7 linked regions of the Homo sapiens genome follow. The protein of the gene in region 2 interacts with the protein of the main gene of each other region in a pairwise test. Each region holds a gene or a part of one and is shown on either strand. Other genes may lie near its edges.

The links.
Region 1: the proteins of SPMIP4 (region 2) and OIP5 interact in binary tests that used the Homo sapiens proteins (3 or more experiments, as listed by UniProt).
Region 3: the proteins of SPMIP4 (region 2) and KCTD9 interact in binary tests that used the Homo sapiens proteins (3 or more experiments, as listed by UniProt).
Region 4: the proteins of SPMIP4 (region 2) and ATXN3 interact in binary tests that used the Homo sapiens proteins (3 or more experiments, as listed by UniProt).
Region 5: the proteins of SPMIP4 (region 2) and PRPS1 interact in binary tests that used the Homo sapiens proteins (3 or more experiments, as listed by UniProt).
Region 6: the proteins of SPMIP4 (region 2) and APBB2 interact in binary tests that used the Homo sapiens proteins (3 or more experiments, as listed by UniProt).
Region 7: the proteins of SPMIP4 (region 2) and KIF1B interact in binary tests that used the Homo sapiens proteins (3 or more experiments, as listed by UniProt).

The regions. Positions count from the first base shown.
Region 1 is NC_000015.10:41,315,592-41,319,091, forward strand, and holds part of OIP5 (protein Mis18-beta), read right to left. Parts: intron 1-3,500. UniProt on the Homo sapiens protein: Required for recruitment of CENPA to centromeres and normal chromosome segregation during mitosis.
Region 2 is NC_000007.14:25,163,355-25,166,854, forward strand, and holds part of SPMIP4 (sperm-associated microtubule inner protein 4), read right to left. Parts: intron 1-3,500. UniProt on the Homo sapiens protein: Microtubule inner protein (MIP) part of the dynein-decorated doublet microtubules (DMTs) in flagellum axoneme. May serve to reinforce and thus stabilize the microtubule structure in the sperm flagella.
Region 3 is NC_000008.11:25,427,434-25,430,933, reverse strand, and holds the end of KCTD9 (BTB/POZ domain-containing protein KCTD9), read left to right. Parts: intron 1-960; coding exon 961-1,077; 3' UTR 1,078-3,087; downstream 3,088-3,500. UniProt on the Homo sapiens protein: Substrate-specific adapter of a BCR (BTB-CUL3-RBX1) E3 ubiquitin-protein ligase complex, which mediates the ubiquitination of target proteins, leading to their degradation by the proteasome.
Region 4 is NC_000014.9:92,100,083-92,103,582, forward strand, and holds part of ATXN3 (ataxin-3 reference isoform), read right to left. Parts: intron 1-3,500. UniProt on the Homo sapiens protein: Deubiquitinating enzyme involved in protein homeostasis maintenance, transcription, cytoskeleton regulation, myogenesis and degradation of misfolded chaperone substrates.
Region 5 is NC_000023.11:107,645,510-107,648,517, reverse strand, and holds part of PRPS1 (ribose-phosphate pyrophosphokinase 1), read right to left. Parts: intron 913-3,008; coding exon 753-912; intron 1-752. UniProt on the Homo sapiens protein: Catalyzes the synthesis of phosphoribosylpyrophosphate (PRPP) that is essential for nucleotide synthesis.
Region 6 is NC_000004.12:40,823,043-40,826,542, forward strand, and holds part of APBB2 (amyloid beta precursor protein binding family B member 2), read right to left. Parts: intron 2,929-3,500; coding exon 2,845-2,928; intron 718-2,844; coding exon 602-717; intron 1-601. UniProt on the Homo sapiens protein: Plays a role in the maintenance of lens transparency, and may also play a role in muscle cell strength. Involved in hippocampal neurite branching and neuromuscular junction formation, as a result plays a role in spatial memory functioning.
Region 7 is NC_000001.11:10,290,570-10,294,069, reverse strand, and holds part of KIF1B (kinesin-like protein KIF1B), read right to left. Parts: intron 2,989-3,500; coding exon 2,909-2,988; intron 2,024-2,908; coding exon 1,948-2,023; intron 1-1,947. UniProt on the Homo sapiens protein: Has a plus-end-directed microtubule motor activity and functions as a motor for transport of vesicles and organelles along microtubules.

The sequences.
Region 1 (3,500 bases), on a different chromosome or scaffold from region 2:
ACTTAATCAAAAAGAATGTCCTGACCTTTTATCCAACTCATTTTAAAGATTAAGAAATTAACCAAAATCCCATAATGCTTTTCAAATTTATGTTAAAAATATGTTACTAAAAGCTTACTGCCCTAACAAAAATGCAATTATTGCTTCTCTAGAACATTTACTTTTGTACTGATTTCTAAAAAAGATGTGGGATTACTAACAGCACACATTTACAGTTTTTTTTCCCACTTTAAAGTTAATTCTAAATAGAAATTGCTTAAGAATCTAGAAATTGGTGGCGCAGTGGCTCACACCTGTAATCCCAGCACTTTAGGTGGCCAAGGCAGGAGATCAAGACCATGCTGGCTAACACGGTAAAACCCCGTCTCTACTAAAAATACAAAAAAATTAGCCAGACATGGTGGCGGGCGCCTGTAGTCCCAGCTACTCGGGAGGCTGAGGCAGGACAATGGCGTGAACCTGGGAGGCGGAGCTTGCAGTGAGCCGAGATGGTGCCACTGCACTCCAGCTCCAGCCTGGGCGAAAGAGCAAGACTCCGTCTCAAAGAAAAAAAAAAAGAATCTAAAAATTGAGGCTGGGCATGGTGATTAATGCCTGTAATCTTAACATTTTGGGAAGCCCAGGCAGGAGAATCACTTGAACCCAGGAGGTGCAGGTTGCAGTGAGCTGAGATCATGCCATTGCACTTCCAGCCTGGGTGACAGAGTGAGACTCCGTCTTTAAAAAAAGAGAATGATCAATCCATCTCAGGATCTCAGGTATATATTTTGTGTTGGAAATTTGCAATGAAGAACAAATGGTATACCTAATGCACAGTGAGCAACCCATGGTAAAGGACTGGCTGATAAGTTTTATTGTTTAGTCAACCATAACTCAGCTAAAAACATCTATCTAAGCATAAGAAATGAGAAAAAGCGGCCGGGCGCGGTGGCTCATGCCTGTAATCCCAGCACCTTAGGAGGCCAAGGCGGGCGGATCACGAGGTCAAGGAGATCGAGACCATCCTGGCTAACACAGTGAAACCCCGTCTCTACTAAAAATACAAAAAATTAGCCAAGCGTGGTGGTGGGCGCCTGTAGTTCCAGCTACTTGGGAGGCTGAGGCAGGAGAATGGTGTGAACCCAGGGGGTGAAGCTTACAGTGAACCAAGATCACGTCACTGCACTCCAGCCTGGGCGCCACAGCAAGACTCCATCTCAAAAAAAAAAAAAAAAAAAAAGACATGAGAAAAAGGAAACCTTTTAGTTTTATGAAAGGAAAATAAGCTTTTGAGTTAAGACATGCTCAAATCTCAGCTCTTCCACCTCTTTGAGCCCTAGTTTTCTTAAACTATATTAAGAACTCAGTGATATAAGCATAATGCCTACATAAACTAGGTTGTCAATGCTTGTTTTTGTTTTTTAATGGTCAAGGAAAGACTTCTAAGGATGTTTCAGTTTCTTGTAATAAGTAAAAAAGCTTAAGTTAAAAGTGCAATTTATTAGGAAAATAATGAAATAGCCAATGTAATTCATGAGAAAGGATAACCAGTAGGGTAGTTTTTCTGACACTATGAGGCTACATGATCATTATTTTTACTTTTCTCTGTGTCTGCTTCATGTTTTACTGCAGAGAAGACTTCCCTGCAGCTACATGCATCACATGGGAAATAGCTATCCCATACATAGAGCTTTCACTTCCAAACTTCAACACTAGTACTATCTACACGTAACTGGTATTTCTGGGCCCTTGTTTCAAATTCCTAAGGTAGAAAACTGGTTGGCTTAGTTTGGGTCAGGTATCCATTTTTCTTTTTTTTTTTTTTTTTGAGACAGAGTCTCGCTCTGTTGCCAGGCTGGAGTGCAGTGGCGCGATCTTGGTTCACTGCAACCTCTGACTCCCCGGTTCAAGTGATTCTCCTGCCTCAGCCTCCCAAGTAGCTAGGATTACAGGCATGCGCCACCATGCCCAGCTAATTTTTTTTGTATTTTTAGTAGAGACGGGGTTTCCCATGTTGGCCAGGATGATCTCGATCTCCTGACCTCATGATCTGCCCACCTCGGCCTCCCAAAGTACTGGGGTTACAGGCGTGAGCTACCACGCCCAGCACCGTTTTTGGTTTTTAAGAGACAGGGTCTTGCTCTGCTCCCCATGCTAGAATACAGTGACACAATCATAGCTCACTGTAACCTTGAACTCCTGGGCTGTAGCTATCCTCCCACCTTAGCCTCCAGAGTAGCTAGGACTACAGGCATACACCACCATACACAGTTAATATTTTAAATTTTTTGTAGAGACAGAGTCTTGCTATGTTGCCTAGGCTGGTCTCAAACTCCTAAGCTCAAACAATCCTCCAACTCAGCCTTCCAAAGTGCTGAGATTACAGGCATGACCCACCATGCCTGGCCAGGTATTCATTCTTGATCCAGTACCTGGGAGTGGGAATCACACATGATACAAATCACACATGATACAAATATACAAGGCCCCACCTATTAGAGGGAGAGAGAGGCTGGGCACAAACCCAAAAGGTATCTACTGCAACATTATTTTGCAAAAGCTTGCCTTCTAGAATGTTCTTTTTATCTTTTATTTATTTTTATTTTTTCTGAGACAGAGTCTAGCTCTGTCACCCAGGCTGAAGTGCAGTGGCTTGATCTTGGCTCACTGCAACCTCCGCCTCCTGGGTTCAAGCAATTCTTCTGCCTCACCTCCCGAGTAGCTGCGACCACAGGCGTGTGCCACCACACTTGGCTTATTTTCGTATTTTAAATGGAGATGGGGTTCCACCATGTTGGCCAAGCTGGTCTCGAACTCCTGACCTCAGGTGAACCCCCGACCTCAGCCTCCCAAAGTGCTGGGATTACAGGCGTGAGCCACTGCACCCGGCCCATAAGGGAGCAGTTTGAGATGGGAGGCTTCACCATGTTGCCTAGGCTGGTCTCAAACACCAAGATTCAAGTGATCCTCCTGCCTCAGCCTCCTGGGTAGCTAGAATTACAGGCACACACCACCACATCTGGCAACAAGTTTCTTTAATGAAAGAATACCCTCTGAATTTTCCCATGGTATGACTTTTAAGATATGGTATGATAAGACATGGAAGATAATCATAATGTTATAAGATTATATTTTGGTCCCACTGCTTTTTTTTTTTTTTGTCACCCAAAGTGGAATGCAGTGGTATGATCACAGCAAAATGTAACCTTGAACTCCTGGGCTCAGGTGATCCTCCCACCTCAGCCTCCCAAGTAACTGGGACTATAGGGGCACGCCGCCACATCCAGCTAATTTTTTAAAATTTTGTATAAAAAAAAAACAGGAGTCTCACTATATTGCCCATGGAGGTCTTGAACTCCTGCCCTCAAGCAGTCCTCCCACCTTGGCCTCACAAAGCATTGGCATTACAGGCGCGAGCCATCACACCTGGCCCACTGCTATCTTTTTGTCAAAGACAGTGCCTGACTTTAGCATCTTTTTGGTACAAACACTTTGTCTTTTTTCTTTTTTTTTTTTTTGAG
Region 2 (3,500 bases):
ACATAGATCTACATCATTCTTTTTAACTTGCTTTTTCCAGCCTCCGAATGGCCCTGGAGTGTGAGGGTTATTTGTACCCCACAAGAATGCTCACCTAGAGAAACACGCCATTGAGTATGTTCTCAATAATTAGGTAGATAAAACGACCAGCTGTGTGTGTGTCAGGTTTTCTCCAGTCACCCTGGTGCTTGCTCAGTGGCTTCATAACGAAGTGATCATGGCGGCAGCACAGAAATTATCACATATGGACTCAGTGACATGAACTTCCCTCACTAAGACTCACCTGGCTATTGGCAAATTTGAGTTTGCCATCAGAAGTGACCAATCATAAGCACTTGATAGGGTGACCTATCCCTGGATGTACTAGTCAGCCATCTGGTGGTAGGATAATTACATTGAACCCCTTCCATCATCAAAGAGATAACTTATCCTCATAAGATTAGACACTTCTTCAAAATAGGGATTTCCCTTCCCTTCTCACCGTGCCTCTGCAAGTAACATCATCAGTAAACTTACTAAATGTCTCATTCATTGCCATGACGTATTAAACAATATTATTTTTGACTAAGGAACTCAATGTACTGCAAAAGACATTGGGCAACAGTTGGTTGAATTCAAATGATTCACCGTATTGATAGAATGTTAGGTTTTGCCATACTTACCGAACATTAGGATGGCTTACTGAATATTCAATTATGGCTAAGTGTTGTCCTAAAGAGTGTGGGACACGCTCTGAACCAGTGACCAATAAATAGATTCCCCCTTAGCCAGAATGCATGGTCTGAAAACCAAAGAGTGGAAGTGGGAGTGGTGCGTCTTACTGTTATACTTATGGTTACACTTGAGAAAATTTGACTCCCTCCCCAGCTACCTCGAGCTTTGGTGGTTTAGAGGTCAAGGGAGAAATGCTTCCATCAGGGGGTACAACAATGGTTCCAATTGCATTGGAAGCTGAATTGATAATGATGTGGTAATTTTGGGCAGGATGACTGATCCTGAATATCAAGGGCCAGAGGATATTACACAATGATGGGGGAAAGGAGTATTTCTGGAACCTGGGGAACCTTTTGAACACCTAGTATTGTCTTCAGTAGCATGGAGTTAATGAAACACTATAGCAGCCTTACACACAGGCAGAACCACTAAGAGCTAAGATCTCTTAGAACATACTTTTGGGTTGTTCTATCAAGTAACATACTCCTACCAGCTCAGGTATTTGCTGAGGGCAAGGGAACTTGGAATAGGTAGTGAAGGAAGGAAATTATTATTATTTATAAAAGCATTTTTAATTTCAATAGTTTTTGGGGAACAGGTGGTGAATAAATGAATAAATTCTTTACTGGTGATTTCTGAGATTTTGGTGTAACCATCACCCAAGCAGTGTACACTGTACCCAATGTGTAGTCTTTTATCCCTCACCCCTTTCCCAACCTTCCCCCTGAGTCCCCAGAGTCCATTGTATCATTCTTATGCTTTTGTATCCTCATAGCTTAGCTCCAACTTCTAGGTGAGAACATACAATGTCTGATTTTCCATTCCTGAGTTACTTCACTTAGAATAATGGTCTCCAACTCCCTCCAGGTTGCTGTGAATGCCATTATTTCATTTCTTTTTATGGTGAGTAGTATTCCATGGTATATCTATGCCACATTTTCTCCATCTACTCGGTTAATGGGCACTTGGGCTGGTTCCGTATTTTTGCAATTGCGAATTGTGCTGCTATAAACATGTGTGTACAAGTGTCTTTTTCATATAATGACTTCTTTTCTGGAGGAAGGAAATTATAACACCAATGATAGCCTCATGACCAGGTGTGGGAATGAGGACTACAGTCGCTTCTCCTATTTTCTGCCTTGATGTGTCTTATATACTTTTATGTATTTTCTTTTTTCCTCTTCATTTTCCTTATTATTTCATATAGGATGCATTGGTGATGGTTAACTTTATTAGAGAGCATAGGTATAGAATATTGGGACAAGATTACAACTGAACTAGACAGGAGTGGGCACTTGGAATTGGATATAGCAAAGTTGGAAACCACTTTCCTTTGGCCTCTGCTTTTGGGGAGGTGAGTATATTTTCATTTGTATGAAAATTGTTGCTTTTTTGTTTTTTTTAGACGGAGTCTCACTCTGTCGCCCAGGCTGGGGTGCAATGGCACAATCTTGGCTCACTATAACCTCTGCCTCCTGGGTTTAAGTGATTCTCCTGCCTCAGCCTCCTGACCTCATGATCTGCCCACCTTGGCCTCCCAAGGTGCTGGGATTACAGGCGTGAGCCGCCGCGCCTGGCCGCATTTTCTTACATTGAAGCAACGGTCCTCCAACTTTGCTGCACGTTGGAATTATCTGAGGTTATCTTGTTAAAATGCAGATTCTGTTTCAGTAAATCTGGGGTGGAGGCTGAGATGTGGCATTCGCCATTTCCTAGGTGATGCCGATGTACCGTGTATTGAATAGAAAAGCATGCTATTGTTGCTGCTGTTGTTTAGAGTGACAGTCCACTGGCACTCAAGACTGTCATCTTTACAATACCCTCTCTACATTTTGCTAGTTTCCCACATTTGGAACACCCCGCTTCCCAGCCTTCCTAGCAGCCAGGGTGCAAATGTGCCCTAAGTTCTGCCAATCATCCATATCTATACTAGATTTTGAGTTGACTGTGAGTAGCCTGAGAACATGAGCTTCATGAGGGGCATCCAAACCACCAATAAGGTTGCAGGAGAGGTGTCCAGTTAAAGAGGCACTTCTTCCCTGATGAGGCCAGTCCTGGGAGTGAGTCTGGCCACTATTCCTGGATGCCGAACAATGAGCCTATTTCTCTAGGCATCCCACAGTTTTGTCTCATAATCTTGCTCTTTTTTCTTTCTTTCCGTCTTCTTTTTTTTTTTGAGACGGAGTTTCACTCTTGTTGCCCAGGCTGGAGAGCAATGGTTAGTTTAAGAACAGGATTGCCGGGCGTGGTGGCTCACGCCTGTAATCCCAGCACTTTGGAAGGCCCAGGTGGGCGGATCATGAGGTCAGGAGATCGAGACCATCCTGGCTAACACGGTGAAACCCCGTCTCTACTAAAAATACAAAAGATTAGCTGGGCGTGGTGGCGGACGCCTGTAGTCCCAGCTACTCGGGAGGCTGAGGCAGGAGAATGGCATGAACCTGGGAGGCAGAGCTTGCAGTGAGCTGAGATCGTGCCACTGCACTCGAGCCTGGGCAACACAGCAAGACTCTGTCTCAAAAATAAAAACAGGATTGGCCAGGCGCGGTGGCTCATGTCTGTAATCCCAACACTTTGGGAGGCCGAGGCAGGTGGATCACCTGAGGTCGGGAGTTCGAGACCTGCCTGATCCACATGGAGAAACCCCATGTTTTAGTCTCTACTAAAAATACAAAATTAGCTGGGCGTGGTGGCACACGCCTGTAATCCCAGCTAGGCTGGGAGGCTGAGGCAGGAGAATTGCTTGAACTCAGGAAGGGGAGGTTGCAGTGAGCTGAGATCATGCC
Region 3 (3,500 bases), on a different chromosome or scaffold from region 2:
AGCTCGAATCCTGGAGGTGGAGGTTGCAGTGAGCCGAGATTGCACTCCAGCCTGGGCAACAAGAGCAAAACTCCGTTTCAAAAAAAAAATTGTGTGTGTGTGTGTGTGTGTGTGTGTGTGTGTGTATTTATTATGTTGGAATCCATTCTGTATTTTAAATCAGTGGTCCCCAACCTTTTTGGCACCAGGGACTGGTTTTGTGGAAGAAAATATTTTCACAGATCAGAGTCGGGGGCTGGTTTTGGGATGATTCAAGCGCGTTACATTTATTGTGCACTTTATTTCTACTAGTATTACATTGTAATACATAATGAAATAATTATATAACTCACCATAATGTAGAATCAGTGGGAGCCCTGAGTTTGTTTTCTTGCAACTAGACAGTCCCATCTGGGGGTGTTGGAGACAGTGACAGATCATCAGGCATTAGATTCTCATGAGGAGTACCCCACCTAGATCCCTCACATGTGCAGTTCACAATAGGGTTCACGCTCCTGTGCGAATCTAATGCCCCTGCTGATCTGACAGGAGGTGGAGCTCAGGCTGTAACTTGAGCCATACAGGGACTGGCTGTAAATACAGATGAAGCTTCATCTACTGGTGACCTCCTGCTGTGTGGCCTGATTCTTAACAGGCCATGGACCAGTATCAGTCTGTGGCCCAGGGGTTGGGGACCCCTGTTTTCAATGTCTCCTTATAAAATATGCAAGAACAAGGGACATGCTTCCTCTTTAACCTTTGTTTATACATATTTATGGTGATCAGCCTGAACTAGAGGTAACAAATAAAGATAGAAGAACATCTTAATTTAGGGTGGTGTATCATCAGTTTTCCGGAAATTAACTGAGTTTTATTGTATAAGAACATTTTCCTAATCTGCCCCAGAAATCATTTTGAGCAGAAATAGATAAGGCCTGAAATTTCCACATGAATTACATGAATATTGTTTTCATCTTGCAGAATTGTGATCTGTCTGGGTGTGATCTTCAAGAAGCCAACCTGAGAGGGTCCAACGTGAAGGGAGCTATATTTGAAGAGATGCTGACACCACTACACATGTCACAAAGTGTCAGATGAGAATTTTAGGGGCTGGAGGAAGATGTAAAAGATGAAAATGTTTTCCTTATCACTTTTCTTTCTCCACCCACTCAGTTGTCTAGAAGAAATAACACTGTAAGGAAATTTAAAAAAAAAACATTTAGAGGATTATGCTTGTTTTGAGTGGTGCATAAGGGAAAAAACTGACTTTTTTTCCATATTCTGATTTTTAACAGAAAAGCACTCATTTAATAGATGTAGGGAAACTAGATATTGCTGCCTTTTGAATGGGGTAGGGGGGTTTACCTGGTTTTATGACCAGGCATAGTATCTATTATATTTGCTTTTAAATAGGCATGATGTGGAAATACCATCTTGGTTTGAGATGCATTTGAGGATTTTAATTTATGGAAAGCACAACATATGCAATTATATTTATTGAATTCCTAGATGCAGTATGGATATTTAAATTGTTAAAACTTTATGAAAACTTGGAAAAGGTTGTTCAGGTTTATAAATAGCTTTAGTGATGCCTCCCCTCTTTAAATACCTGTCACACCGTATGAATATGGTGAGATCAGACTCCCTAAGACTCTTTTCAGGTTCATTTTTATAATGTTTACTTTTTAGGACAGAACAGTAGCTAAATTAAAGTAATATCCAGTTCTTACTGATTGAGACAGAGTGGAAAGAAAGACATCATTGTACATCACTGTCATTCCAAAGGTACAGTGTAACTCTGGATGGAGGAATAACTTACCTATCACTACAACACTTACAAATGAGAATTTCTCAGAATTTCATTCTAGGCAAGTTCCACTCAACACCAGATCAAGCAATTCTATCTATTTACACTATTAGCCTAGTTTTCTCATACAGTCATCACAAGCATAGGAAGATACTTCAAAACCAAAAAAACCAAGGTGCATCATTAATATTCATTTAATTCAAATACCAAATAGTTTACATAGGGCCAGCTTAGAAATAGATACTAAATCCAGAGCTACTGCAATCAAAGCTTATATGAGTGAATATGGTAGAGTTGCCTGCTAAAAGGCAATGTAATATAATTGCAGCTAGAACCCTACAGTGGGGAATGAGGAATTTTAAACACACATTTGATTACAGCCACCAAAAAAATAGACGTAAAAATAAAGGCATTTGGCTGGTCCAAGATGTAATTATCAATCAGTCAGCACCTGTGATTCTTTTACTTATTTTTTTGTGGTTTTTTTTTTTTAAACAAATTTTAGCCCAATTTTCTTGAGTCATTCTCTCTCTGCAGCAGCAGAGGAAGGGCCTGTACCTCCCTACCAATGACTTGGTGTCCTTATTTTCTACCCCAAGAGCAGGGATATTAGCTGTGTCCAAATGGGTTCTGAATTCTACAGACTCATCAACATGAGGCAAGGAATCATTGAAAACCACCTGTGTCTCCTTTGGGAGAATGACATATCTTTAGTATTTACGTAGCTTATTCTTCTATATCTACATATGCAAAGCTTTCCTTAACAGTAAAGGGTACATATGCATAGTGGGAGGAGATCAGACCTTTACAAGTGAAGGAAAGCAACTTCAGAAATGAATTATTTTCTTTGCTTTATTATTTTTACCAAGACAGAGAAGTATTGTATTGAGAGATAATCTATTTTCATAATCAATATGTGCCTAAATTATATTTAAATCATTTCACTCTGTACTATATTTTCAGGAATTACAGAATGTGGTATTCATTCACTTAAAGGTACCTCTGTAGAAATAACCTAAAACTGCAGAAGGATCTGAAAGATCTAAACATGGTGTGCTTAGAAACTGCAGATTTTAGATCTAATGTATACTGCATTAATAAATGATATAAAGTGTTTGTTGAAAAGGAGTTTCTTCTCTTCCTTTTGAAAATCATCACTTTCTGTATTTTGCTTACATTTCTTCAATATGTGTTGACAACCAGCCCTGTGGTTCTGGGTAGCAAAGGAAATACAGTATAACTTAATTTGTTATGGATTAGTCTTTTTGAAAGTACCATTAAAGTAAATTTATTTCTTTAAACATGATTATTTTTATCATTCTTTTAAAAATACACCATGCTAACAACACAAACCTTATGAATTCTGAACAAAAGAAAAGACTGCCTCCCCAATAATTCGTTTAATTTGTTTGTGTTAAATTCATCACTCTTTAGGTGATGAATATTACCAGTTAGCTTTATTAGACTGGATAAATAGCATGCCCCAAAACATTTTTTGCCTGATAACTAGGATAGAGAATTTTAAGGAGGGAAGAAACCGTTAAAATAGTAAAACTTCCATTAACCCTAGAGATGAAACATGTCTGTACACATAGGTAAAAATACAGCTGTTGGGATGACAGGAAAAAGGTTTTAAATCAAAATTAAACTAGCTGGATTATCTGCATTAATAAAATTTGGTACTCAACTAAGCAATACTATCTATTGTAGTCTA
Region 4 (3,500 bases), on a different chromosome or scaffold from region 2:
ACCACAATGTGTTAGTACACAAACTCTAAAATGGCTAAAATGTTGGAGATTAGAGATACAGAAACTGTTGTATACTACTGATGAGAGGATAAATTGGTATAACCAATAATAACTAATAATTATGTAATGCATCCACTAAAGCTTAATATATACATCTCCTATGATCTAGCAATTCCATTACTAGGTACATAATGTAAACAACAGCAATGCAAACATACATTCATCAAAAGACATGTATAAGAATGTTCACAAAAGCAGTATTTTTGTGCCACAAATAGCATTACTATTTGTAGTAATACAAAATAGCATTACAGATAGCATTACTATTTGTAATGGACCCCAAACTGGAAACGACCCAAATGGATAGCTGGGATCACAGTAGAATGGAAATTGTGTTTACTCACAAAAGAATACTAGATAACAATGAGGATGAATTAACTACAACAGTAGTTAATTAACAATAATTAACAGTAGTTAATTCTGGAACAGTATGGATAAATTTCTCAAACAATGGTAAACTAAAGAGGACAGAATCGAAAGGGTATATACACTGTACACTTCCAGTCACAAAAGCTCAAAATCAGGCAAAACTCATTTATGATGTCAGAATTCAGCATAGTGGTTATATTTGGTGGGAATGCAGTGGAGAGACAGTACCTAGAAAAGGGAATAATGGGAGGTTATAGGATGCAGGTAAATCTTTTGTTACTTGCTGTTTACACATGTTCACTGTGTGAAAATTCGCTGAGCTGTACTCTTAATGATTTGTGTGCTCCTCTCTGTATTGTATCTAATTTTTAAAAAATTCAAACAGTAAGAAAAAAGCCTTTGCTAACACAAATTTCCTGTCTTGCTGTCAGTTTGGAGTTTACAAACTATGGTCACCATACTTAATACCATATATAGCAATAGTGACATCCAAATATTTGATTAAAATTCTCTCTATAAAAAATAGCTTTAAATTATGAAAAATAAGTACTTGAAATCAAACTTCATCAAAGAAAAACTGTATTGCTACAGGAAATATCAAGTTCTGTACTTCTAATATGATTTAATGGAAGGAAAGGACAAACTGTTCAGTACAAATTTAAAAATCACTTAAGGCTAGGCACAGTGGTTCATACTATAATCTCAACTGTTTGAGGGGCTGAGGTGGGAGGATCACTTGAGCCCAGGAGTTCAAGGCTACACGGAGCTAAGATTGTGCCACTGTATTCTGGCCCAGGTGACAGAGCAACATCATGTCTCTCAAAAAGACACAAAATAAATAAAAATAAAAACAAAAATAAACATAACTTAAGTCATAGGACGGATCAAATTCCACATGGACCAAAAGAATTGTACAATGACAATGAGCCCACGTAAGATTATGCATTTTCCTGCCTTGCCCTTATCTCAAACTATCCCCAGCCACCTCTCTCATCAAGCTTTAATCAAAGCAGAAGTTCACTTTGCCATAATCAAAGTTCAGCGGTATTGAAATCTCATGATTTGGCTGGGCATGGTGGCTCATGGCTGTAATTCCAGCACTTTGGGAGGCCAAGGCAGGTTGATCACTTGAGATCAGGAGTTCGAGACCAGCCTGGCCAACATGGTGAAACCCCGCCTCTACTAAAAATATAAGAATTAGCCAGGTGTGGTGGCAGGCGCCTGTAGTCCCAGGTGCTCAGGAGGCTAAGGCAGGAGAATCACCTGAACCCAGGAGGCGGAGGTTGCAGTGAGCTGAGATTGCACCACTGCACTCCAGCCTGGGTGACAGAGTGAGACTCTGCCTCAAAAAATAAAAAATAGGCTGGGCGTGGTAGCTCACGCCTGTAATCCCCGCACTTTGGGAGGCTGAGGCAGGTGGATCACGAGGTCAAGAGATCAAGACCATCCTGGCCAACATGGTGAAACCTCGTCTCTACTAAAAATAAGAAAATTAGCTGGGCATGGTGGCACATGCCTATAGTCCCAGCTACTCGGGAGGCTGAGGCAGGAGAATCTCTTGAACTCAGGAGACGGAGGTTGCAGTGAGCTGAGTTCGCGCCACTGCACTCCAGCCTGGTGACAAAGTGAGACTCTGAAGAAAGTTCGTGCCACTGCACTCCAGCCTGGTGACAGAGTGAGACTCCAAAGAAAGAAAAGAAAGAAAGAAAAGAAAGAAGGAAGGAAGGAAGGAAAGAAAGAAAGAAAAGGAAGAAAGGAAGAAAGGAGGGAGGGAGGGAATAAATAAATTAAAAACAAAAAAAAAAATAAAAGAAATTCTATGATTTTAGGCCCAGACTTCATTGTGTTGGGCTCAGAGAATTAGCAAACTGCAGTTCTACAAAGATAATGTATAAAATCACAAAAGAGAACTGCTACCAAATCATTTACCCCCAACCTCCCCAGGTTTTCAAGACCAACCTGAAACTAGTTCAAATTACCAGAGACACTACTAACTACAACACAAATCAGGTATAAACCTAAGGTGCTCTCGGGAATGGGCTATCTGGGGACAAGCTGTCAATCTAGCAGCATTTCTCACCTCCTCTTAGTGCTCTCCGAGCCCTTACTATGAGGTTCAGCAAACACAAGCACCTGAGTAATGGCAATGGCCAGTACTTCTACAGCACTATCTGCCAGGGAGCCTTCTCTACACTCTAACTCTCAGGTTATGTCTATGTTATTATCCCCACACTACAGAGGAGGAAACTAGAGGACAGGGATACTAAGTAACTTGCTCAGGATCACACAGGTAGTAAAAGGCAGAGCTGAGACTCAAACCCAGGCAGAGGTTTCAAAACCTGTGCTATTAGCACTTCAAGTCATTTATACAGAATTTGGCTTCTCCTAAAGCTCAAATGTCCTAAAGATGGCTAAAATCCAGCAATCACAAAAGGGCATAATGAATGCCACAGAGTCAATGCTCAGCATCTTTTCAATCTTTTCAATAATTTTATGTACAACCCCAGCAAGTTTAGATATTATTACCAGTTTGCATTACATTAAAAGCACCAATACAAATGGCACAGTAACTGCACCAAGAAACATCAGCAAGAGGATTAAAAAAAAAAAAAAAAACAAAGCAGGCACCAGAACTAAAACAAACAACAACAAAAATCCAGTAGTGGTCATAAAGTTAGTACAAAGGTTTAAGTTAGGGGTTGGCAAACTCTAGCCCATGGGCCAAATTCAACCTGCCCCAGTAGCTAAGAATGCACTTTACATTTTTACATGGTTGGGAAAAACATGCACAAATAAGAATGTGTGACAGAGACTACAGCTGGCCTGCAAAGCCTTAAAATATTTACAGAAAACTTGTTTACTTTAGATAAACAGCACCATATATATCTCAGAAACTCAAAGCCATCTCTTTATCCATTCAAATATATACATTTTTTTCTTTTGAGACAGGATCTTGCTCTGTCCCCTAGGCTGGAGTGCAGTGGTGCGATCATGGCTCACTACAGCCTCGACCTCCCAGACTCATGCAATCCTCCCACCTCAGCCTCCCAAGTCTACAGGCATGTGCTAAC
Region 5 (3,008 bases), on a different chromosome or scaffold from region 2:
GAGCCTTCAAAGTTGAGGCTGCAGTGAGCTTTGATTGCGCACTCCGGCTGGGGCAACAGAGCAAGATCCTATCTCAAAAAAAAAAAAAAAAAAGATGATAATCCTCCAATTACACATATTAATTTCAAAAAGCTCATAGATTAATGTGAACATTTTTAATTAAGCAAGGCCTTGTTCTTTTAGTGCAAGAGCACTCAAACTTTAGTTTCTAACAATTACTTGGGGAATTACTTTAAAATACTGGTTCCAGGACCTCTGGTTTTATAGGTCTTAGATGGAGCAAAGGAATCTACATTTTAATAAGAACCTTAGGTCCAGAGCACACTGAGAAACACTAAAGTTGGTAGAAGTGTACAATCAGTTTAAAGGTTTCACATTATATCTACAGGGGCCGATAGTTAACAGACAAACACATACTGTAAAGTATGGACTTGAAAACTTTAATTTGCATCAGAATCACTGGGAGAACCTGTTAAAATGTAGAATCTTAGGCTCCATCTTCCAGAGATTCTGAGGTGTAGCAATTTAAACTTTTAAACAGGTGATTTTCCCAAGGCTTGGCAGTTTGAAAAGAAAAAAAAAAAGGAAAAGAAACAGGTGATTGTTAACTTTTGGATCACAAATTCTGATGACAAGACTAAATCCTTCAGACCAAAGAAAGATATCTTCAGAATCCAGAGACCTAATTCAACGTAAGTAACCACCTCCTAAACACTTAGAAAAGTCTTGTTTTGCACAAATCTCATCCTCACCTGTATTTTGGAGCAATGCTTCATCTTGTCCTCCTGAGGTATGGTATTGGTGACTACTACTGCCTCAAAGCATGCGTTGTTGATGCGAGAAATAGCAGGACCGGAGAAGATTCCATGAGTCAAGATGGCATAAACTCTGGTGGCGCCAGCTGAGAGAAGTCTAGAGGGAAAAAATGTTGATTTGGATTCATCTTACTTGTCATTGCAGAATTTTAGTCAGGGAGGAGTATATTAGCCTGCTTAGGCTTCCACAACAAAATATCATATGAAAAAAAATAAAAAAATAAAAAATATTATAAGGCACAGTGGGTTAGGGGAAAAATTTTTTTAAGGAAAAGAAAATACCATAGAATGGGTGGCTTAAATAACAGAAACAAATTTTTCACAGTTCTGGAGGCTTAAAGTCCAAGATCAAGGTGCAGACAAAGTAGGTGTCATGCTGAGGCCTCTTCTCTTGTAGGTGGCCACCACTTTGCTGTGTGCTCAGATGACCTCTTTGTGTGTGAGTGTGAGTGTGTGTGCACGCATGCGTGCGCATGGGGAAATGCTGGCCAGTTCTCCAGCATTCTCTTCTTATAAGGGCATTCATCCCATTGTAAGGGCTCTGCCCTAGTGACCTCATCTAATCCTAAATACGTGCCCCTCAAGGTAACTCCAAATACCATCACATTGGGGTTAGGCCTCAACATATATGAATTTGGGGAGGACACAATTCAGTCCATATCGAGAAAGAACTGCACTAAGAACTTATCTGAATAGGTCTGAATTAGTGTCAAAGGACTCTGGCATAGACTGTTGCACTTAACAAAATCCACTTCCTCTTCTTTCTGGGCACATAGCTGAACTACATTTCCCAGCCTCCCTCACATAGTTCAGTGTGGCCATGTGGCTTAATTCTGGCTATTAAAATGTGGGCAGACACAATGTACATCAGTTTTTGGTTGGACTTAACAAAAATCTTCCAGGGGTGATCCTCTGTGTTCTTTTCCTTTTCTGGCTGGCCAAAATTGAAATGTCTTCCAAGGTAATCTTGGAAACCCCATGTTAAAGATATAGCACCAAAGATTGAAAGAATCTGAGCTCCTAACTATTGCTTAGAAAAAATGAGTCCAACAAGAACACTTGCATTGGAGTGTGCCATGGACAAGAAGGAAACTATCATGTTAGGGAGTTGATCTGTTATAGCGACTAGTATTCCCGTACTTGTACAAGGATGAAATGGGTTTTATGAATGTTTACTCCAGGATCCCAAACCAAGAATCATTCACCCCAATTTTTTTTTAGCACCTATTATGTGCCAGGCACTGTGCAAGGCACAGACACAAGAAAGTTTAAAAAAACCATTCTCAGGGCTGGGTGCTGTGGCTCACAGCTGAAATCCCAGCACTTTGGGAGGCTGAGGTGGGAGAATTGCTTGAGCCCAGGAGTTCAAGGACAGCCTGGGCAACATAGTGGGACTCCTTCTCTACAAAAATAATAATAATAATAATAAATAATTACCCAAGTGTGGTGGCACTTGCCTGTAGTCCCAGCTACTCGGGAGTCTGAGACAGGAGGATTTCTTGAGCCCAAGATTTCAAGACTGCAGTGAGCCGTAATTGTACTACTACACTCCAGCCTGGGTAACAGAGTGAGACCATGTCTCAAAATAAAAATAAAAGTAAAAATACCATTCTAAGAAACAATGCTGCTCATAGTGGCTTGGATTGTTAGTAATGAGGGGCCACTTAAAATCTTAAAGAGTGATGGGATCGAGCCTCAGTTGCAGGAAGATTAGCAAGCATGGAGAGATGGAGTGGGGAGGTGAGAGAACGGTGACTGGCAATGGAGAACAGAGTGGGGAGGCAATTTAGAACACTGCAGGCAAGAGATGACAAGTAATATAAACATTAACCTATCACAGGATTAGAGTGAAAAAAAGAAGTAATAATGAACAAAAGTAGCAGCCGGTAAAACAGTCGAGAAGTAAGACCAAGGGTTCCGGCTTAGGTAAAATAAAAATATGAGCACACACACCTGTCTGCTCAGGATTTTTATTTTAACTCATTAAAACAAAAAACAATCGCATGTAGCATACTCAGGGTGATCAAAAAACTTTGATGATCAGGCGATGGTTGTCTAACATTGTGAATATAGTTAATGTCATGGAATTATACACTTAAAATAGTTAAAATGGCAAATTGTGTTATATGTAGCTTAGTACAATATAAATTTAAAAAATAAGAAAATCTGAAAAAAAAATAAGAGTACTCAACA
Region 6 (3,500 bases), on a different chromosome or scaffold from region 2:
CTTTCCCTGGCAGGTGCTTCACAGAGGCAGAATAGAAAAGTGGGCACAAGTCTGGGCCAGGTTGCCTGGATTTAAGTCCTGATTCCATTGCTTCCAACTGTGTGATGCTGGGCAAATGACTTAGCCTCTCTGTGCTTCAATTTCTTCAACCACGAAACTGAGATAATTTGGGCTGAGGCTAATGTGGCCTCTTCTCAAGACAACCAATAGCTCCTTCTGCTACTGATAGTCACAGGACTCTCCCAAATGGAAGCATCTTCTGCTTTTCATCCCCAGATCACACAGCCCAGGCAATACTGGCGCCCTGAGAGTGAGCGACTACTAGCGTCACACACTCACCTCTAGCAAACAATTTCTCTCTGGGGCACATGAGGAAGACAGAATCAGAAGCACCAGAAGAGAAGTTTCTCAGGCCACAGGAAAACAGAGGTATGCACAGATTTAGACCCAGACAAAGGGCCAAATCTTTCAAATGTAGGCCATCTTAATCACAAGGATGCACAACTCCGGCCTTGACTATGTTCCTAAGTTCCACAGAAAACCACTGTATCTTATACTCACTGTATAAGACACACCAATGTCATCGAAGATTCCTTCTCACCTTTTCACTGATGACAGTCACAGTGGCATCAGCCACGTTCATGTTCACTGACAGCCAGTCCTCCTTGTTGGATGAGGTCATAAGATTTTCTATGGCACTGTTCAAAATATCCATTCCTGGGGACAGAAAAGGATAATTTAAAGTGTCCTAAAGCCACTTACCACACTCAAATGTGGGCCCAAATCACCAATAACAGCTACGCCCAGACTGATCTTTTTTTAATAGACAGGACACTTCATTCTCATGTTTGCTCAACAGGAATGAAATACCAGCTTCTGGCCGGGCGTAGTGGCTCACGCCTGTAATCTCAGCACTTTGGGAGGCTGAGCCAGGATCATTTGAGGTCAGGAGTTCGAGACCAGCCTGGCCAACACGGTGAAACCCTGTCTCTACTAAAAATACAAAAATTAGCTGGACATGCTTGCTTGAACCCAGGAGGCGGAGGCTGCAGTGAGCTGAGATCGCACCACTGCACTCCAGCCTGGGCAAGTATCAGTGAGACTCTGTCTCAAAAAACAAAAAAAGAAAAAGAAAAAAAAGAAATAACAGCCTTTTCAGTAGGAGAGGAGAGTCAGGAGAAGCTCCGGGGACCTGGTGCCTTAGACGCTGTCTACCTATGCAGACCATGGCCCTTCAGCCTCTCTCCACCCTCACTGTCTCTTGATGGCACCTTTACAGTGGATCCCCCCATTGAGTAGGGCCCTTTTGCCAGCTGTTTCCACAGTTTTTCTGGGGGATAGGGGTGGGAGTGACAGCTTTATTGAGGTATCATTCACATGCAATTCACTCACGTAAAGTGTGCAATCCAGTGGATTTTAGTACATTCACAGAGCGCACCCATCACCATCATCAATTTTTTTTTGAGACAGGGTGTTGCTCTGTCACCCAGGCTGGAGTGCAGTGGTACAATCACGGCTCACTGTAGCCTCAGCCTCCCAGGCTCAGATGATCCTCCCACCTCGGCCTCTGGAGTAGCTGGGACTACAGGTACATGCCACCATGCCCAGCTAATTTTTTGAATTTTTTTTGTAGAGATGAGGTTTTGCCATGTTGCCTGGGCTGGTCTTGAACTTCTGGGCTCAAGCAATCCACCTGCCTTGGCTTCCCAAAGTGCTGAGATTACAGGTGTGAGCCACCATGCTAGACCTACCATAATCAATTTTAGAACAGTTTCATCACCCCAAAGAGAAACCCCGTGCCTGGTAGGGGTCATTCTGCATTTTTCCCCCACTCCCCAGACCCCTAGACCAAGGCAACCCTTACCTACTTTCTGACGCTAGAGCTCTGCCTATTTTGGGCGTTTCATATGAACGTAATCACACAGTATGCAGTCTTTTGGGACTGACTTCCCTCATAGCATGTTTTCAGGCTTCATCCACGCTACAGCGCACTTCAGTCCTTCATTCCTTTTTATTGCCAAATAAAATTCCACTGTATGGAAGTATCACATCTTATTTATCTAATTGTCAGTTGATTTGTCAGGACATTCAGGTTGTTTCGCTTTTTGACTCTCATCAATAATTCTGCTGTGAACATTTGCATACACGTTTTTGCATGCACAAACGTTTTCACTTCTCTTGGGTCTACGCCTAGGAACTGAGTTGCTGGGTCTAAAGTAACTATGTTTCACCTTCTGAAGAATGCCAGACTGTTTTCCAAAGCAGCTGCACCATCTTACAGCCCCCTTGGCAGTATATGTAGCTTGCGATTTCTCCACAGCCTTTTTTAGCCCTGGTGAAGGCTTCATCTCCCAGTCTCTTTTTGGCTTGGTATAGCCCAGCAACTACACTCTGCCCCTGGCATGTGAGCTGAATGCTGTGTGTGCCACTACTGTGTCACTCCTTGACAGCATGAAGCCTCCACAGTCCTTTCTCCTGGCCCGCCAGCTGACAAGACACGAAGCAGGTGCCCTGGCCTCAGAGATGGAGGCCTCGTTTCAGAGCAGCGGAGCTCTTCCACGGCCCTGAGTCACACAGCTCTGGACTACTGGGTAAACAAGAAATCCACGTCTGTATTGCTAAAGTCCTGCATGCTGGGGATGACAGGTCAAAGCAGCGGGGCCTGTCCCTCTACTCATCTTTTGATCAGGACCGTTTATGTTCTCTGGCAGGTGACAGTGTGACAGTTTGATTCAAGACAAGGCGTGAGAGTAAACAGCAGACCTCACCCTCCTCGGAGGGCGAACGCCTCCTGTGAGCTCCCGCACACTTGCAAAGTGGAAAGACAATAAACATTTCACATACCGACTGGTTTGTCTACAGGTAACATGCCCAAGTACTGCACGTGGAACTTCTGGACCAGCTCAGTCTTTGGTGTTGGAAAATCTACTACAGGGAACAAAAGCAACACATCTTTCTCAGTGGTTCCAACACACATGTACACAACAGCCGTGGCTCTGCATCATCTGAATGCTCAGGACACGCCCTGTGCCATAACGCCCTATGTTTCTGGATGTAAATGTAACAACTATTCTACAAGAGCAGCATTACTCCAGATATTGGGGCTCTGTTAAAATCCTGTTCAACTTTCAAGATAGGAATGCATGTGAAAGCAGGAAGTGGCATCTATGTGTTAAAGCTGCTACTGTCTCTTTGATGTATATTAAGTAAAGTAGCAGCTTTTGGTGTCCTATTTAATTAGGTGTGGTTGATGCCCAGAGAAAATGTAACCTCAAAGGGCACAATCAGAGACATAGGAAGATAACTGAGTTCCCCCAGTAATCAACCCACGTTTTTTTTTTTTTAGAGACAAGAGTCTCGCTCTGTTGCCCAGGCTGGAGTGCAGTGGTGCGATCTTGGCTCGCTGCAACCTCCATCTCCTGGGTTCTAGCAATTCTACAGGTGCATGCTGCCATACCTGGCTAATTTTTTGTATTTTAGTAGAGACAGGGTTTCACCAT
Region 7 (3,500 bases), on a different chromosome or scaffold from region 2:
GGTTAAAGAGAAATCTGAAAAACCTCCACATCTTCTCAACTAGCATCCCCCTTTGTAGTTGAAGAACTTGACTGGTTTGAGAAAGTCAAAGCCCTTTGTGAGTAGCATTCTTTAAAGCACATCATAATTTGAAAAATGGAATCTCAGAAACAGGTCCTAAGACTGAGTTTGGATGTGGTCACTGGTATATCCCTTCCTTTCATGAAGAAGTCTAGAAAGCTAAAGCAAGATGGGTAAAATTAAAGTAAGAAAAAGCTTTGGAAGCAGAGATCTCACTTTGGAATTCCATGCAGTGTACATCTCAACATTTGTTCAAGTTATTTATGATTTATGTTAAATGCATAATATTTTCACTAGTTGTTATAATAAAAATTTTCCAGCCAGGCACAGTGGCTCATGCCTGTAATCCCAGCACTTCGAGAGGCTGAAGTGGGTGGATCACAAAGTCAAGAGATCAAGACCACCCTTGGCCAACATGGTGAAACCGTCTCTACTAAAAATACAAAACTTAGCTGGGCGTGGTGGCATGTGCCTGCAGTCCAGCTACTTGGGAGGCTGAGGCAGGAGAATCACTTGAACCCGGGAGGCGGAGGTTGCAGTGAGCCAAGATCACACCACTGCAGTCCAGCCTGGCGACAGAGTGAGACTCTGTCTCAAAAAAAAAAAAAAAAAAAAATTTCCTCACAGTCTTTAATACTGTAAGATGTTATAAAATACCTTTATTAGACATATGCATAGGCACAATTAAATTCCACCAAAACTGTAACTGCTAAAATCTATATAATCCTAAGTAACATATCTGAATGAATACATGTCTTACTGAAGGAAAAACTATTAAAACTGTGAAAACCACTAACCTTTCATAATATAAACATATAAAATACTTAACTGTTCTATTCTACAATATGCATCTAAAATGTCTTTACATCAGTCTTTTCTGTTGAAAATAACACATTGGAATTTGGGAAGAAAAAAAAAAAAAAGTTATGTGGCCAGGATAGAAAAACCTGACCAGAAGAATTGTAGCGAAAACCACAGGAATATTTCATATCACATAAAAGTACCAATTCAAAACTCACCACCCCTTGTATCCTAACTTAGAGAGATCATCAACAGAACCTATGAATAAAGATGTTTAAGTCTCCAATAGCCAATGTGAGGTCACTTGAAATAAAGGACAATTTACTAGTGGCATAAAATACATGCTTTGTACATCGATATATGTTCTCCTATTTTCTGATACATAAGCACACAAAATAACCATTTGATAGTCATTTTCTAGTATCCAACAAGACGTTGCAACTTAGTTTAAGAAAAAAACAAAAAAACCCTTACTACTCTAATTAGCTAAAAGCTACGTAACTACTTCATAACTATGATTATGTAAAAAGGAAGGTAACTATTGGAGACACTTTTTAAAAAATGAAGAAGGAAGCAGAGGAGTCTAGAAGGATAGGGACAGGAATTGCTTTACTTAGTACAATGGCTGTCTATAATACAAATTGCAGAAGCAAATGGAAGCAGTATTATTCTCCACAAACCTGTACAGCTGAAATTGGTTCCAAAAAGTTATAAAGCAGGGTAGACGACTTCTGTGGGAAAATCTACATGAAAGAGTAGCCAAAACTGAAAGTACGCTAGGTTAGGCTGGGAATTTAAGAGAAAGCAACAAATAAAGATGACTAAACAAACTGAATCATGGCCAAAGGTTACATATTGCCTTAGGTTTTTTCTTTTGTAAACAGTAAACAAGATAGGCATTTTAGAAATAGGCTGCCTTTGTACTATAAGACCATGCTCTAAGATGAAATCAGAAATATCTGAAATTAAGGCAAGTATCAAGATAATAAGGGGGAGAGTAGGTCCTGAAAGACATGAAGTGCCCCAGTAACAAAGACAAACAAAAAGTGTCTCTGTCTGATTAGGTTTCACAGCATTGTTTCCTACCTTTTTAGGTGAGAAAACCCCTAGGGTTCCTCCATCTTCCCGAATGGCAACTCCCATCTCAGCCAACAAAGCCTCTCTAGGAAAAAAACAGGTATATCAGAACACTAATACCAAAATGTCAATTAAATCAGTCTAATATGAATTGGAAAATAAAGCCTGCAAAGCAAAAACAACTGGCCATGTTTATAGCCAATAATGCAAACATAAAATAATGTGCTTATCTCATCATTAATGAGAAGTTATTTCTAAAAGCAACATCACATTCAAAATCAATGAAATCTTGCTTTGTTAAAGTTATATTCACTGAGATAAGAACTTTGTCTCAACTGACTTTGGGATAGTCAATAATTCATAAATGATATGCATATTAATATAAAAAAGAAAAGAAGAGGCTATTCCTTTTTTTTTTTTTTGAGACAGAGTCTTGCTGTCACCCAGGCTGCAGTGCAGTGGCACCATCTCGGCTCACTGCAAACTCTGCCTCCCAGGTTCACGCCATTCTCCTGCCTCAGCCTCCCGAGTAGCTGGGACTACAGGTGCCCACCACCATGCCCGGCTAATTTGTTTTGTATTTTTAGTAGAGATGGGGTTTCACCATGCTAGCCAGGATGGTCTCGATCTCCCGACCTCGTGATCTGCCCACCTCAGCCTCCCAAAGTGCTGGCATTACAGGCGTGAGCCACCGCGCCTGGCCAATATGTTCCATTTTTATGAATCCCTAGCAACATGTAATATGGTAACTAATAAACCTGTGACTCCCTAGATAATATTTAAATATGTAGATGTCATTTCAAAGCATAAATTCAACTGGCCATAAATCCCTGTCCATTTTTTTGGTTTCGTTTTGTGTTTTAGAAGGGCAGACTCTTTGATTTTAATTTATATTTTATCTTTTCTTACGATAAAGTAATCCACATCCCCTAGAAAACTTAGAAACATTTCCAGATTTTAACCTCCTGACCTCTCCATTCTGATGGCCTCTGTTTTACGAAGCTTCTCTTCCCAAGTTTCATTCAACTCAGCAATGATCTTCTCTGATTCCTAAGGAAGGAAGCGCACAGTTAAAGAGGCAAAGAGTCTTATAATTTAACATACCATGCTAGAAAAGCAAGAAGCAAATCATGCCCTTTGAGGATACAGGCCAGAATTAAATGTAAAGAGATTTTTCTTTTATTAATACATAAGATAAGAATCATAAAGATTAGACCTAAAACTAAATCAACCCCAAACAAATAAATCCTCCAAGTCTTTTTTTTTTTTGAGACGGAGTCTTCCTTTGTCACCAGGCTGCAGTGGCGCGATCTCAGATCACTGCAACCTCACCTCTGGGGATCAAGTGATTCTCCTGCCTCAGCCTCCCGAGCAGCTGGGACTACAGGCACGTGCCACCACGCCCAGTTAATTTTTGTATTTTTAGTAGAGACGGGGTTTCACCATGTTGGCCAGGATGGTCTCAAGCTCTTGACCTCGTGATCCACGTGGGCATGGTGGCAGGCGCCTGTAATCCCAGCTACTCAGGAGGCTGAGGAAGGAGAATGGCATGAACCCGGGAG